2 linked regions of the Homo sapiens genome follow. The protein of the gene in region 2 interacts with the protein of the main gene of each other region in a biochemical or structural test. Each region holds a gene or a part of one and is shown on either strand. Other genes may lie near its edges.

The links.
Region 1: the proteins of NOSIP (region 2) and IPO7 form a complex in vitro, tested with the Homo sapiens proteins (one study listed by BioGRID).

The regions. Positions count from the first base shown.
Region 1 is NC_000011.10:9,422,248-9,430,047, reverse strand, and holds part of IPO7 (importin-7), read right to left. Parts: intron 7,043-7,800; coding exon 6,908-7,042; intron 6,272-6,907; coding exon 6,172-6,271; intron 5,135-6,171; coding exon 5,058-5,134; intron 4,903-5,057; coding exon 4,786-4,902; intron 1,509-4,785; coding exon 1,419-1,508; intron 1,283-1,418; exon of another isoform or gene 1,094-1,282; intron 1,018-1,093; coding exon 852-1,017; intron 375-851; coding exon 214-374; intron 1-213. UniProt on the Homo sapiens protein: Functions in nuclear protein import, either by acting as autonomous nuclear transport receptor or as an adapter-like protein in association with the importin-beta subunit KPNB1.
Region 2 is NC_000019.10:49,576,757-49,584,478, reverse strand, and holds the start of NOSIP (nitric oxide synthase-interacting protein), read left to right. Parts: upstream 1-3,922; 5' UTR 3,923-3,964; exon of another isoform or gene 3,965-5,338; intron 5,339-7,601; exon of another isoform or gene 7,602-7,720; intron 7,721-7,722. Other genes in the region: PRRG2 (transmembrane gamma-carboxyglutamic acid protein 2 isoform 1 precursor), read right to left, coding at 527-566, 762-937, 1,175-1,259. UniProt on the Homo sapiens protein: E3 ubiquitin-protein ligase that is essential for proper development of the forebrain, the eye, and the face. Catalyzes monoubiquitination of serine/threonine-protein phosphatase 2A (PP2A) catalytic subunit PPP2CA/PPP2CB.

The sequences.
Region 1 (7,800 bases), on a different chromosome or scaffold from region 2:
AAACCATTGCCTGTCTGATAAGAGGTGGAACAGTTTCATCCCAAAGCCATCTCCCCCGGACCATCTGTGGAAAAATTATCTTCCATGAAACCGATCCCAGGTGCCAAAAAGGTTGACTGCTATAAGGTAAGGCAAGCCACTGGTGACACAACCTGGAACATACTGAGAGCTACATTAAAATGCTTGCAAATATGGTAGGTTCAAACAACATACCAAATGTTGTGTCATTTCTACTGCAATAGGAGTAACTTCTTCACTATATTCACAGATCATTTTCTGAATTACATTGGTAAGGTCATCATTTTCTGTTTCTCTTATAATGTGAAGAAGAGCCTGCATTACAGGTCTGATGAATGGTGTGATATATTCTTTAGCTGTAAGAGAAAGAGTAAAAAACTTGCGTAAAACCCCTAAAACTTCTTAAAACCTGATATAACAAATATCGATGAGTTTTTTAAAAAAGTACTTTCACATAAAAAGGAAGTATGCCAAGTTTCTAGGATTATGGCTTTTTACAATTAATATATATATATATATTTTATAAGAGGCAGGGTTTTGATCTGTTGCCCAGGCTGGAGGGTAGTGGCAATCGTAGCACACTGCAGCCTCGAACCGTCGGGCTCTAGTGATCCTGCTGCCTCAGACTCCCAAGTAGCTGGCACTACAGGTACATGCCACTATGTCCAGTTAATTTTTAAAAATTTTTTTTGTAGAGATGTTGCCCAGGCTGGTCTTGAACACCTGGCTTCAAGCGCTCTTCCCACCTAAGCCTACCGAAGTGCTAAGATTACAGGTGTGACCTACCGCACCTGGCCAACATTCACTTTTCTTGACATACAAAAATCCTTTACCTTTTTCTTGATTGCTGATCAATACTTGAAGGGCAATGGCAGCTTCCACTTTCACAGGCATTTCTCTATCATCAATCAGACATCTTCTTGTTAGCTCTAAGGCTGTTTGAAGGTTCTGATCACTTTTGAACTTCACTTCACAAAAATAGTGAAGTACCCAGCAAGCCTTTTGTAAAAACACAGTGAGTTACTGTAGATACCTTACCTTAAATTCCCCCAAGCTAATCTCTATTCCCTGAGTTCTGTGTGTGGGAATTTGGAGGCTGGCCAGTGGTAGATGTGTCCAGAGACAACACTAGACCAGTACTATGATCCCAAGTTACTCTTTGGCCGCATGATGTTTGTGTGGATAGCAAGATCTGAATGAAAAACACAGACAGACACTGCTACCAGACACAGATGAAACCTATGCACACATTACAGCAGCCATGTAAAGATTTACATTAAACAGAAACCTAAAATAAGACACAGGCTTCAAAGTGAACATTTAAAAGTTTCAATATAAAAGTCCACAGAGTCATTCATTACAAGACAAAAGTATATAAATAATGCAGCTTTAAAACATACCCTTGCTCTCATGTAGCCTAGTTCACTGCTGAAGAGAGGGAATACATGATTCTGCAACATGTATTCCATCTGATCTTTATAGATCTTTTTCTGTAAATATAAACAACAGTTATTTTGATACAGTTCCAAATATAATCATCTCAATTTCCAAACAGATATAACACTATTAAAAATGACTATTAATGTTACATATATTTATTCTCATTCTTTGAACCCCAGAATCCACAACCAATTTTCGTATTCCAGAACTTCACCACCAAAAACCACTAAACACATTTTCACGTTTTTATATTCCTTGATTAGAAAGCCATTATGCCAAATCTTACCAGCAATAGTGTTCGAATGATGTAAGTTTGGTTAATTTTATCTGTTACTATGAAACTTTTATAAGGAAAAAACTTGTCTGATAAAGTTTCTGGCTGAAAATAACATAACCTGAGAAAAATCCTGCTTTCAAACGAATAAACTGGCTATCTAAAAAGGCACACTCTTTTTTTTTTCTTTTTTTTTGAGACGGAGTCTTGCTGTGTTGCCCAGGCTGGAGTGCAGTGGCACAATTTCGGCTCACTGCAATGTCCACCTCCCAGATTCAAGTGATTCTCTAAAAAGGCACTCTCAGTATTCAAAGTGAGTATTTTCTAAGTGGAAAGAAGCTTTTTAGAAGAGTTCCTTAAACTGCACATTAAATCAACATTAAAAACATAAGACACTTATATATCAACACTTACATAATCAGACATGACAACTTAATGCAATGTGAGACCCTAGACTGGGTCATGGAACAGAAAAAAGGACATAGTGGGAAATCTTGTGAAACTTTAAAAAGGTCCATGGATTAGTTGATAGTAGCATACCAAAATCAACTTCATGTTTTTGATAACTTTGCCTACCTATGTAAGGTATTACCACTAAGTGAAGCTGAGTGAAAGGTAAGAATAGATAAACTTGAATTTGCCAAGAGAACTCACTAATTCTCAGCCTTCTATGCCACAAATGATTAGAATGTCTTTAATACATACTTTATAAACAAAGAGAAGGATGGGTGAACAGGTATAGAAAAGATGAAAGACGGCCGGGTGCAGTGATTCACGCCTGTAATCCCAGCATTTTGGGAAGCCGAGGCGGGTGGATCACCTGAGGTCAGGAGTTCGAGACCAGCCAGGCCAACATGGTGAAACCCCATCTCTACTGAAAATACAAAAATTAGCTGGTGTGGTGGCAGGTGTCTGCAGTCCCAGCTACTCGGGAGGCTGAGGCAGGAGAATCGCTTGAACTCAGGAGGTGGAGGTTGTAGTAAGCAGAGATCACGCCACTGCACTCCAACCTGTATAACAGAACGAGGCTCCATTTCCAAAAAACGAAAAGATAAAAGACACAATGACTAAATATTCTGTGAGTACTTAGTGCCTGGCTTTAGAATGTAAAGATTTCTAACAACTCAATTATAAAAAGACAAATAACCCAATTAAAAATGGGCAAGGGCCAGGCACAGTGGCTCACGCCTGTAATCCTGGCACTTTGGGAGGCTGAGGCAGGCGGATCACCTGAAGCCAGGAGTTTGAGACCAGCCTGGCCAACATGGCAAAACCCCATCTCTACTAAAAATACAAAAATTAGGCTGGGGGCAGGCACCTGAGGCATGAGAATCACTTGAACCCGGAAGGTAGAGGTTGCAGTGAGTCGAGATTGCGCCACTGCACTCCAGCATATGGCGGGGGGGCGGGGAGGCGGAAATCTCAGCTACTTGGGAGGCTGAGGCAGGAGAATCACTTTAATGTGGGAGACTGGTGGCTGCAGCGAGCCAAGATCTCACCACTGCACTCCAGCCTGGGTGACAGAGCAAGACTCCATCTCAAAAAATAAAAAGAAAAAAAACAAAGGCAAGCAATTTTTTTGGGGCAAGGAATTTGAATAGATATTCTCTAAAGAAAATATACAAACGGATAGTAAGCACATGAAAAATTTCAAAGCCACAAAGACATAATGCTTCACGTTCACTAGGATGGCTATAATCAAAATATACTGCTGGCAGAAATATAAAATGGTATAGCTACGTTGGAAAATGGGTTCTGCGGTGTCTCAAATTATGACAAGCAATTCATACTCCTAGGTATATACCCATGAAAAATGAAAACGTATGTCCACATAAAAATTTAAACATGAATGTTCACAGCAACATTTGTAAGCAGCCAGAAAGTAGAAACAACTAATGAATGAGTAAATAAAATGTGGTATATTAATATAATGAAATATAATTTGGCAACAAAAAGGAAAAAGTACTGAAACCTGCTATAACACAGATAATCCTTGAAAACATTACACTAAATGAAAGAAGTCACCCACAAAGAGCTACGTATTATATGATTCCATTTATATAAAATGTCCACAATAAACAAATCCATAGAAAAAATGTGGACTATAGGTAGCCTAGGGTTGGGAGATTTGGGGTGATATGTGGAGTGACTGCTAATGTATACAGAGTTCCTTCTGGGGGTGATAGTTATACAACTGTGAATAAACTAAAAACCACTGAGTTGTACACTCCATAAGGTTGTTATTTTTTATTTTTTTATTTTTTTTTGAGACGGAGTCTCTGTCGCCTGGACTGGAGCATGGAGTGCAGTGGCATGACCTCGGCTCACTGCAGCCTCCGCCTCCCAAGTTCAAGTGATTCTCCTGCCTCAGCCTCCTAAGTAGCTGGGATTACAGGTGCCCACCACCATGCCCAGCTGATTTTTTTTTTTTTTTTTGGAGACAGAGTCTCACTCTGTCGCCCAGGCTGGATTGCAGTGGCGTGATCTCGGCTCACTGCAAACTCCACGTCCCGGGTTCAAGCCATTCTCCTGCCTCAGCCTCCTGAGTAGCTGGGACTACAGGCGCCAGCCACCATGCCCGGCTAATTTTTTATTTTTATTTTTAGTAGAGACGGGGTTTCACTGTGTTAGCCAGGATGGTCTCGATCTCCTGACCTCATGATCCACCCACCTCGGTCTCCCAAAATGCTGGGATTACAGGCGTGAGCCATCACGCCCGGCGGATTTTTGTATTTTTAGTAGAGACGGGGTTTCACCATGTTGGCCAGGCTGGTCTTCAACTGCTGACCTCAGGTGATCCCCCCGCCCTGGCCTCCCAAATAGCTGGGATTACAGGCATAAGCCACCACACCCGGCCTATTTTTTATCCTTATAGAGATGGGGGTATCACTATGTTGCCCAGGCTGTTCTCAAACTCCTGGGCTCAGGCAATCTGCCTGCCTCAGCATCCCGAAAGTGCTGGGATTATAGAAGTGAGCCACTGTGCCTGGCTGGCTATTTATTTTTTAAAACTACTTGCATAGTCATGCACATACAAACACACTAAAGAATACCTTCAGAAGTATTTCAGCTAAAGAGCCAATCATATGCAGGGCTCCATCTTTTTTTCGAGGGTCAGCATTTGGTTCTGTAAGAATCTGGTAACAAAATCCCATAGTCTTTTGCAGTACCTAGATTAAAAGAGAAAAGTATTGTTACTGAATAGGCCAACAGTCCTTAAAAAACATACTAACAAAATGACTCACATGACTAACATTTAAAAAGTGTATAGTTGAATAAATTTTAAATAATACAGAAAAGTTATCTAAACATTAAATAAGCCTACCTCTTTCCTCTTACTACAGGCTGTAAACAAAAGTGTCTGGGCAGCAGTGGTAGGAGAAATGAAATCTTCAAACACATCTAGAGAACAAGTTTAAAATTAAGACAATAAACATTAATTTCTTCAACAAAGCATTAAAAAACATGCTTAATCTTTACATAAGGTATGAAAATGATCCCAGATCCCTTTATAATTTTGCAAAAGCAGAATTCAATGTCTTTTCTGTACAAATTGAATGCTTTTGTTTGTTTTGAGATGGAGTCTCGCTCTGTCACTCAGGCTGGAGTGCAGTGGGCGATCTCGGCTCATTGTAACCTCCATCTCCCAGGTTCAAGCAATTCTCCTGCCTCAGCCTCCCAAGTAGCTGGTTTACAGGTGCCTGCCACCACGCCCGGCTAATTTTTGTATTTTTAGTAGAGATGGGGTTTCACTATATTGGTCAGGCTGGTCTCAAACTCCTGACCTCAAACGATCTGCCTGCCTCGGCCTCCCAACACGTTGGGATTTACAGGCCTTAGCCACCGCACCTGGCCTGTGAAAATTAAATGTTAATCCATGAATTCCTCCTAATAGCTTTCATTTTTATTTATTAACTCAGAACTCAGCAGTTTAAATCGTATGTATGAAACACTACTGATGTGAGAATTTTCACAACAGGGTCACAAAAGTACAAGCTGCAAAAAGCACAAATGACTTGGTAAGAATAAGGACCAATATTCAACATTATTAGCCAAATTACAATTCTTTAGTTCTGTGCAAGGACTTCATGTGACACCAGCTTCCTAGATGTGTTTTCTCATTTCCCACTCATATGATGGCTAACATAAGATCCAAAAGTATAGTTAAGACATTTAGTGTTGAGGTGTAATCTTGAATATCTAACAGTTTTGGTATTCAGTAATAAAAACTTAACAGTATTGAATTTGTGTCTGCCAAAAATAAGATTATCATTATCAAATGTCATAATTAATAAATAGCCCCAAAAAGGACTACACAAGGGATCAATTACATTAAAACAACAAAGAAGATACATAATACCCCCTAGGTTGGCTACATGCAATCACTGTAATCTTAATTACTGACATTTTTTGTTTCTAAAAACGTGAAAATTCCTTACCAAACTTCATGCGTATATATTCGTAAGGGTCTTCTTGCCAAAGTTCCTCATCAGCATCTGTATAGCACATCAATGGAAAAATAACATCTTGGATAATGCCCTGCAATTTAAAAGTTAAGAAAACAATAACCATCAGTTTTCAAATTTAAACCTTCAAATTTCCTTTAAGTATTAAAACCAAAGTAACACTATATGTATTTTAAAGCTTAATATCAAACGTTAGTAATGCATTTAATGTGTTCTAAGATCAACTATCAAACTACATGTACTTCCCCTTTCTGTAACAAGTAACTTTAAGATATATGTGTACAAAGGTCGCAATTAAGTATTCTAAATATATATAGTCTATAAAATTCTACAGCTCTAAATAAAGCACATAAATTATTCATAGAAATAGCAGGTAAGTCATTTATACTAGAAATGAATCTGGTGAGATAAAGTCCCTTGGCTACTCCAAATTACATGATAAAATATAATCATAGTCCAATATTAAGAACTTAAATTGCAAGTTTGAAGACAACAGTTTTGGATTAAAAGATAAGTTGAATATTCACAAGATACCTCTCATAACTTTATGTCACTGTCTTATCTCCTTTTTCTGCTATACTCTCAAAACAATCACCAGAAGTAGTCTAAGTAACACAACTCAACAAACATGCAATTTTTCAACCTTTATGGCAATTGATGTCATTTCTATTATATTTACTATAAAAACATTTCAGATAAAAATTATTACTTGTATATGGGGCTTCAGATTCTTCCAGGTGAGAGCATGAGAAACTCCTTGATTAATATAATTTAATGTCTGTTGTAAAACTCGAGGAGCCATATATTGCTTCTCCTTGTACTGATATAACACCTTCAATAAAACCTTGGAAAAAAATTTTCGATCACAAATCAATGTTCAAATAGAAATTTCAACCACTTACAAGCCAGTAAAAACAGTTAACACATATTTTAATGACAAGCTCATCATCAAGAAAAACAACCGTATACTTTGAAAAATAATTTAACTCATTTCTGATTAAGAATGAAAAGAAGAGAAAACTATATACTATCTTCGTTTTTCTGGGGTTTTTTTTGTTGTTGTTGTTAGAGACAGTGTCTCACTACGTTGCCCCGGCTGGTCTCTAACTCCTGGCCTCAAGCGATTCTCCCATCTCAGCCTCCCAAAGTGCTGGGATTACAGGTGTAAGTCACCACACCTAACCCATTTGCTACCTATTGAAAAACCACAGTATTGGGAGAAAACCCTATCTTGTTAAAGCCATCTTCTGGGAAAACCTTACCCAAAGCAGTCAACTGCCTATTTAGCATCTGTCAATAGTTCTAACTCTACTTCATGTTTCAGAACACTGACACACAAAATGTGGTCCACAAACCTCTAGTGGTCCCCAAGACTATTTCAGAGGATCTACTAGTTTAAAGCTACTTTCATAATGATATTGTCTTTTTTTAAAAAAAAAAACAAAACTGTGTTTTGAGTAAATGAGTATTTGCACCAATGGTACAAAACCATGGTGTTAAATGTTCTGATGCCTTATTTGAATCAAGAGTATGATATTAAATTCACAGTATTTTTATTTATTTATTTATTTGTTTATTTATTTATTTATTTGAGATGGAGTT
Region 2 (7,722 bases):
ATAATTAAAGGCCTGGCGCGGTGGCTCACGCCTGTAATCCCAGCACTTTGGGAGGCCGAGGCGGGCAGATCACGATGCCAGGAGATCAACACCATCCTGGCTAACACGGTGAAACCCCGTCTCTACTAAAAATACAAAAAATTAGCCGGGTGTGGTGGTGGGTGCCTGTAGTCCCAGCTACTCGGGAGGCTGAGGCAGGAGAATGGCGTGAACCCGGGAGGCGGAGCTTGCAGTGAGCCGAGATCGCACCATTGCACTCCGGCCTGGGCAACAGAGCGAGACTCTGTCTCAAAAAAAAAAAAAAAGCAAAAATAAATATTTAAAAATAAAATAAGGTGTGGGGGGCTCCTCAGGCAAGCTGGGGTCTTAAGGGAGGGAACTCCTTTAGCAGCCAGCTTCAGAGAGCACAGAATTGGGGGGCAGACGATTCTTGTACCTAATTTGGGGTGGAGGACGTTGGTTTGGCCTCGCTGGGAAGGGACTACCTTAGCTGCACAGAACAAGATGGCTTCAGCCCCTCACTCACCTCCTTTGCCATTGTAGATGTAGCTCTCCCAAAAGCGCTCCTTGAGGGGGAAGGAGTGGAAAAGAAGGGGAAAAAGCAGGAATTCAGCTGGGAGGTTCACACCCCCAAACTAGCCCATCCTGATTTCTGAGACACCAAGGAGGAGGGAGCTGAAGGCCAGAACCTACCCCTGCAACCTCCCCACAGGTATAGAGAAGAGAGAGGGCCCGAAACTCCAGGGTCTCGAGGCCCTCACCGTGAGAGTGTTGTCCTCAAAATACTCCCTGGCCTCTTCCCAGGAACACCTCTCTTCCAGACACTCCCGTTCCAGGTTCCCTGGTGTGAGCAGCTCCAGGTCCCAGTGGTTGGCTCTTGGAATCCGGGTATGGCTACTCAGGAAGCTCTGGGCCTCTGGGGGACCCAGGAAGACTTCTGGACCCAAAGACATGAGGGACAGAAAAATGGAGGGTCCCTAGGGCTGGAGTCATAGGGGGATGGAAAGCAGTGGGGTCCTGGAGGAAGGAGCAGGGGCTGGGAATCCAGATTCCTGGGTCTGAAGGAGGAAGGGGCTGGGTCCTGGACTCCTGGAAGAGGAAGGACTAGAAACATTCCTGAGTCAGGGGGAGGCCAACGCCAAGTGTCTGGATGCCACTTCCCCCAAACACTCACCTTGGTCTGTCTCCTCACTGGGTGAAGTATCCAGGCAGGTGGTTAATGCCATATATAGCAGCAGCAGAGAGGGGTGGCCCCTCATATTTTCCAGACACCTAGAACCAGGTTTGTTACAGCTGACAAGGGCCTTAGTCCCTGGGTAATGAGGCAGTGCCTCTCTGACTGGCCTCTGTGGTCCACGAATGGCAATAATAGCAGCCACTTACACAGCCTGTATTCTGTGCCAGATACTGTTTACCTATATAAACTCATTTTACTTTTTTTTTTTTTTGACATGGAGTCTCGCTCTGTCAGCCAGGCTGGAGTGCAGTGGCACAGTCTCAGCTCACTGCAACCTCTGTGTCCTGGGTTCAAGCGATTCTCGTGCCTCAGCCTACCAAGTAGCTGGGATTACAGGCATGCGCCACCACACCCGCTAATTTTCTTTTTTTTTTGAGACAGAGTCTCGCTCTGTCACCCAGGCTAGAGTGCATTGGTGTGATCTCCGCTCACTGCACACTCCACCCCCCAGGTTCATGCCATTCTCCTGCCTCAGCCTCCCGAGTAGCTGGGACTACAGGTGCCGGCCACCATGCCCGGCTAATTTTTTTGTATTTTTAGTAGAGATGGGGTTTCACTGTGTTAGTCAGGATGGTCTCGATCTCCTGACCTCGTGATCTGCCCGCCTCAGCCTCCCAAAGTGAATTTTCATATTTTTAGTAGAGATGGGGTTTCACCATGTTGGCCAGGCTGGTCTTGAATTCCTGACCTCAAGTGATCTGCCTGCCTCAGCCTCCCAAAGTGCTGGTGCTGGGATTACAGGCGTGAGCCACTGTGCCCGGCCTCAACTCATTTTACTTTTCACAGGAGTCATACAAAAATTAGCCAGGCGTGGTTGTGGGCGCCTGTAATCCCAACTACTTGGGAGGCTGAGCCAGAATAATCACTTGAAAGGGGAGACAGAGGTTGCAGTGAGCCGAGACTGTGCCACTGCACTCCAGCCTGGGTGACAGAGCGAGATTCCATGTCAAAAACAAAACAAAACAAAACTTTTCACAGGAGTTTTTTTTTTTTTTTTTTTTTAGACAGAGTCTCGCTCTGTCACCCAGGCTGGAGTGCAGTGGCGCTATCTCAGCTCACTGTGACCTCTGCCTCCTGGGTTCAAGCGATTCTCCTGACTCAGCCTCCCGGGTAGTTGAGATTACAGGTGCGCACCACCACGCCTGGCTAATTTTTTGTATTTTTAGTAGAGATGGGGTTTCACCATGTTGGCCAGGCTGGTCTCAAACTCCTGACCTCAAGTGATCCACCCGCCTCGGCCTCCCAAAGTGCTGGGATTACAGGTGTGAGCCACTGCGCCCGACCAGGAGTCCTATTATTATCCCCAGTATAGAGAACAGGAAACTGAGGCACAGAGAGGTAATATAGCTTGCCGAAGGTCACACAGTGTGCAAGTGTGAGAGCCAGGATTTCAGTGAAGGCAGTGTCCGCCAGAGAAGAAAGCAAGGAGCAGGCAGCTTATCTTTCTTTCCCCACTGTGTCTACAGCACCTGACACAGATGCTTATAAACATGTCCACTGGTGATCTGGAGTCTTCCCTTCCTGGTAATTTCCACTTGTGCCTCTTTCTGTGCTCATTGTCACATCCACCCACAGACAACAAAGATTACGAGAGAGGCAGAGGCAGGGGATTAGTTATATTATTGGGTCTAGGGACCTAAGTGGGCAGGGGCCCTGGACTCCTGGGCCTAGGAGCCCCAAACTTCTGGGTCTCGGAGGGGCGGGGAGCCAGGATGCCTGGGTCCCCAAGCCAGGCTCTTCCTCCAGGGACATTCACTTACCTGCCCAGAAATGTGAGCACTGCCCCTTCCTCTTTAATCGAGAACTCCTTGGCCAGCTACAGCCAGCTGTGAAAGGGGACAGGGAAGAGGGGAGGGGATAAGGAGGAGGGGCGCCCCACTCCCGGTAACCAGGCCTGATCCCCGTTTCTGGCAGGTGGGCGGAACTTGCCATTACCTGCCCTGGGCGGGACTCAGGTAAGGGACAAAGTATTTAAAGGGACCTTGGGATAAAGGACTTAAAGGCCAGAGCTCCATGAGGAAGCCAAGGTGTCGAATACCATGGGATACCTGGGGGATTAGATTCGACCCTCCTCCTCCCTCCCGACCCCTACCCGCTCTGGCTCTCCCCTGGGAGTTCGTCTGTCCGAGCTAGAAAAATTAATATCTAGGTCTCTAGGTATCTAGAAACTAGCGGGAACGATATGCCTTAGTCCCTGGGACAGCTGGGCAGTGCCGCAGTAAATCCCTGTTTCCTGAGAGCGACTTGAACGGCTTTGATTTTCAATTTCCCAATGGCTCTGTCTGTAAAATGGGAGCGTAGTTGTCTCTTCTCAATTGTTTTAAGATGCAGCAAGAAAAGTGGATGATATATTTGGGAAAGTGGGCTTCCCGATCTCTAGGGGAAGTGATTAGTCCTTAAATTTGGGCTTGGAGAGACTCAAAACCTGGGAACCAAGCAGGAAAAAACGATCTCCCTGGGAAATGCCTCGTACATAGTAAGCGTTCCCCATATTCCCACCAGTTTCAATATCCGGAACTTTCGATTAGCTACTCACGTTTCCGGAGAGAGAAAGAGAAGAGAGGACTTGAGCAAGCCAGGCGAGGCACTTCCGCAACTAGGGGCAGCTCTACTTCCGGTGCCTTCTGCTGGGCGGAAGTGGGCGGAGCGGAGGGGGAAAATAGTGCTCCTTTCCGGTGTCGGGGCACAGTTGAAGAAGCGACCGAGGGACTGGGAGTCGTTAGTGAGGTGAGTTCGAGGCGGTGCAGGAAGAGTGTTGCTGGGATCGCTTTCCTGCGGGCTAGAGGCCTGGGGTCTTGAGGGAGACTGGGGCAAGATTTTGGATTCCCGATTCCCTGTCAATCATTATTAATACAGCTGTCCGGGCGCCCCAAGTTTGAAGCTGAACTACACTCTGCTGGAGGTGGCCAACCGTCCATCGGGCAGTTCTCTCTCTCTTTGTCTCTCTCTCTCACTATAAACTCAGTCAAGTGGTAGCTAGCATCGGCCAGTTCTCCTGAGAGTTACAGTTCTGCTGTAGATGATGGCTATTTGCTGGTGGTCCCAAGGGAAGGAGTGGACTGGGATTGCTGGGGGTCTAAGGAGTGGGAGTTGAGGAGGGAGAACTCCTTTCCTGGCCTCAGTTTCTCAGACTGTGGTGGGACGGCGGGCGATACTAGATTGTGCAGTCATCCATCGCCACCTTCTCTTCACCTTTTTGACAGCCCCTTCCCTTTCGGGGTTGGTGCAGGGATTCACGTTTTCTTGTGTGGAGCTTCGGGGTCAGGCAGTCATGGATTCCCATTCTGATTGTGCTGCTAATTCTGTGAACTTGGGGCTTGAACGGTCCTTGAGGCAGTTTGATGTTAATGTTTTCTTACGAAAATGTTCAAACTTATATAAAAGTGAGAGAAGAATACAGGAATTCCTGTCACCCAAATCACCAATGATTATTTTTGCCATACTTGCTGTATTTTTTTAAACTTAAAGAGATTAAAACAAATCGTAGGCATCATGACACTTAAGGATTGTCAAAAGACAAAATTGCAACACATTTAGTGAGAAGATCTTAATTGGCATTTATTCGTGAATCTACAATCAAACAACATCTAATTATGGAAAATAGCGTGAGTGTTCCGATGAGCTGAGCAGAGGTTGTTTTCAGAGACAAAGGGCTGAGAAAATCAGAAACGGAAAACAAAAAGCTAGTTGATTAAATTGATTAACTTGATTAAATTTCTAAGTTAAAGGTTAAAGTAGAGGGGACTTCCTTTATCAGGTGGGCTAAAACTGGGTTGTTTGGGGATTTGGCTATTATCTCTCTCCTGATATCTCAGAAGATCAGATATCAACTTAGTTTTGGCTTGGAAGCATGGAACTTTAGCATGAGTGTCTCCATTTTGGTTTGGTCTGTTGAACCTAGTGCAGGAGCTCAATCCAAACCAATGACCTTCTATAAATTTTATCTAACAGGGTGCGTGTGTAAAAACCAGAAACATTGCTGATATGACCACAATACCATCATCACACTTTAAAAGAACAACCGTAATTCTAGACTACTATCCATTACGTGGTGCAGAGTCAAGTCCAGTGTAACTGTGGGTTTGTTGGAATCAGGATATAGTTAAGTAATTGCTATCGTCTTTTACATCTCTCTTAATTTAGAACTGTTCCCCCTTCCACTCCACTTTGGTTATTTCTTGGTGTAATCGATTCATTGAAGAAACTAATTCTAGTTCAGTTGATCATCCCACCATCTGAATTTGTCCCGTTTGCTTTTTTGTGGTCTCATTTTACCTGCTTCTGTTTTCTTTCTTTTTTTTTTTAAGTATTTAAAAATAGGCCAGACACAGTGGCTCATGCCTGTAATCCCAGCACTTTGGGAGGCCAAGGCGGGCGGATCATGAGATCAGGAGATCAAGACCATCCTGGCTAACACGGTGAAACCCCTTAGCCGGGCATGATGGCAGGCACCTGTAGTCCCAGCTACTCAGGAGGCTGAGGCAGGAGAATTGCGTGAACCCGGGAGGCAGAGCTTGCAGTGAGCCGAGATCACGCCACTGCACTCTAGCCTGGGCGACAGAGTGAGACTCTGTCTCAAAAAAAAAAAAGAAAAAATAGATAGAGACAAGGTGTCACTATGTTGCCCAGGCTGGTCTCAAACTCCTGGGCTTAAGCGATCCTCCTGCCTTGGCCTCCCAAAGTGCTGTGCTTAGATTACAGGTGTGAGCCATTGAGCCCGGCCTCATTTTACTTGTTTCCTCATGCCAGGGATCAGCTAATTATGTTCTACAGACCAAACTCAAATCCTGCCAGCTACCTGTTTTAAAAATCCCCATTGGGCAGGCACAGTGGCTCATGCCTGTAATCCTTGCACTTTGGGAGGTGAAGGCAGGTGGATCATCTGAGGTCAGGAGTTCGAAACCAGCCTGGCCAACATGGTAAAACCTCATCTCTACTAAAAATACAAAAATTGGCTGGTCATGGTGGCTGGCACCTATAATCCCAGCTACTCAGGAGGCTGAGGCAGGAGAATTGCTTGAACCCTAGGGACAGAGGTTGCAGTGAGCTGAGATCATGCCACTTCACTCCAGCCTGGGCAAAAGAGCATAACTCCCTCTCAAAAAAAAAAAGCATTAGTGGGATATGATTTACCTAACATATAGTTCACCCATTGAAAATATACAATTCAGTGGTGTTTAGTACGTTGACAGAGTTGTGCAACCATCAACACTATCATTTTAAGAATATTTTCATCACCCAAAAAGAAACCCTGGTACTCATTAGCAGTCATTCCCTATTTCCTCCCAATCCTTCCCACCCCAGTCTTTGGCAGCCACTACTCTGCTATATCTGTGGATTTGCCTAATCTGGGTATTTTGCACAAATGAAACCATAAAATATTATTGTGACTGCCTTCCTTCTTTCATTTAGCATGTTTTCAAGGTTCACCTATGTTGTGGCATGTATCAATACTTCTTTTTTTTTTTTTTTTTCCCGAGACACGGCCTTGCTCTGTTACCCAGGCTGGAGTGCAGTGGTTCGATCATGGCTCACTGCAGCCTCAACCTCCTGGGTTCAAGTGATCCTCCTGCCTTGGCCTCCCAAAGTACTGGGATTACAGGTGTGAGCCATCGGCGCCCAGCCAGCTACTTTATTCTTTTTATGGCTGGATAATATTCCTTTACCCAAGATATACTTCTTTTCTTTTTTTTTCTTTTTTTGAGACAGAGTCTTGCTCTGTCACCCAGGCTGGAGTGCAGTGGCGTGATCTCGGCTCCCAGGTTTGAGCGACTCTCCTGCCTCAGCCTCCCGACTAGCTGGGGCTACAGGCATGCGCTACCACGCCTAGCTAATTTTTGTATTTTTAGTAGAGATGGGGTTTCGCCATGTTGGCCAGGATGGTCTCGATTTCTTGACCTCATGATCCGCCCGCTTTGGCCTCCCAAAGTGCTGGGATTACAGGCATGAGCCACCGCGCCCCGCCTGCATGGATGTATGTTTTTATTTCTATTGGCAGTGGAATTGCTGGGTCAAAAGGTGACTATTTAACCTTTTGAGAAACTGTGACTTTTCCAGAATGGCTGTACCATTTTACATTTCTACCACCAATGTATAAGGGTTCCAGTTTCTCCATATCCACACCAGCACTTATTATTTATCTTTTTGATTATAGTCATTCTAGGGGGTGTGAACTGGTGTCTTTTAACATGCTTATTGGCCATTTGTAGATCTTTGAAGAACTGTCTATTCCAATCCTTTACCCATTTTCAAATTGTGTTAGGTGTCCTTTCATTATTGAGTTGTAAGTTTTTAATATATTCTCACTGCAATTCCCTTATCAGATATCCTGATTTTTTTTTTTTTTTTTTTTTTTTTGAGACAGAGTTTCACTCTTGTTGCCTAGGCTGGAGTGCAATGGTGCGATCTTGGCTCATCACGACCTTCGCCTCCCAGGTTCAAGTGATTGTCCCATTTCAGCCTCCCGAGTAGCTGGGATTACAGGT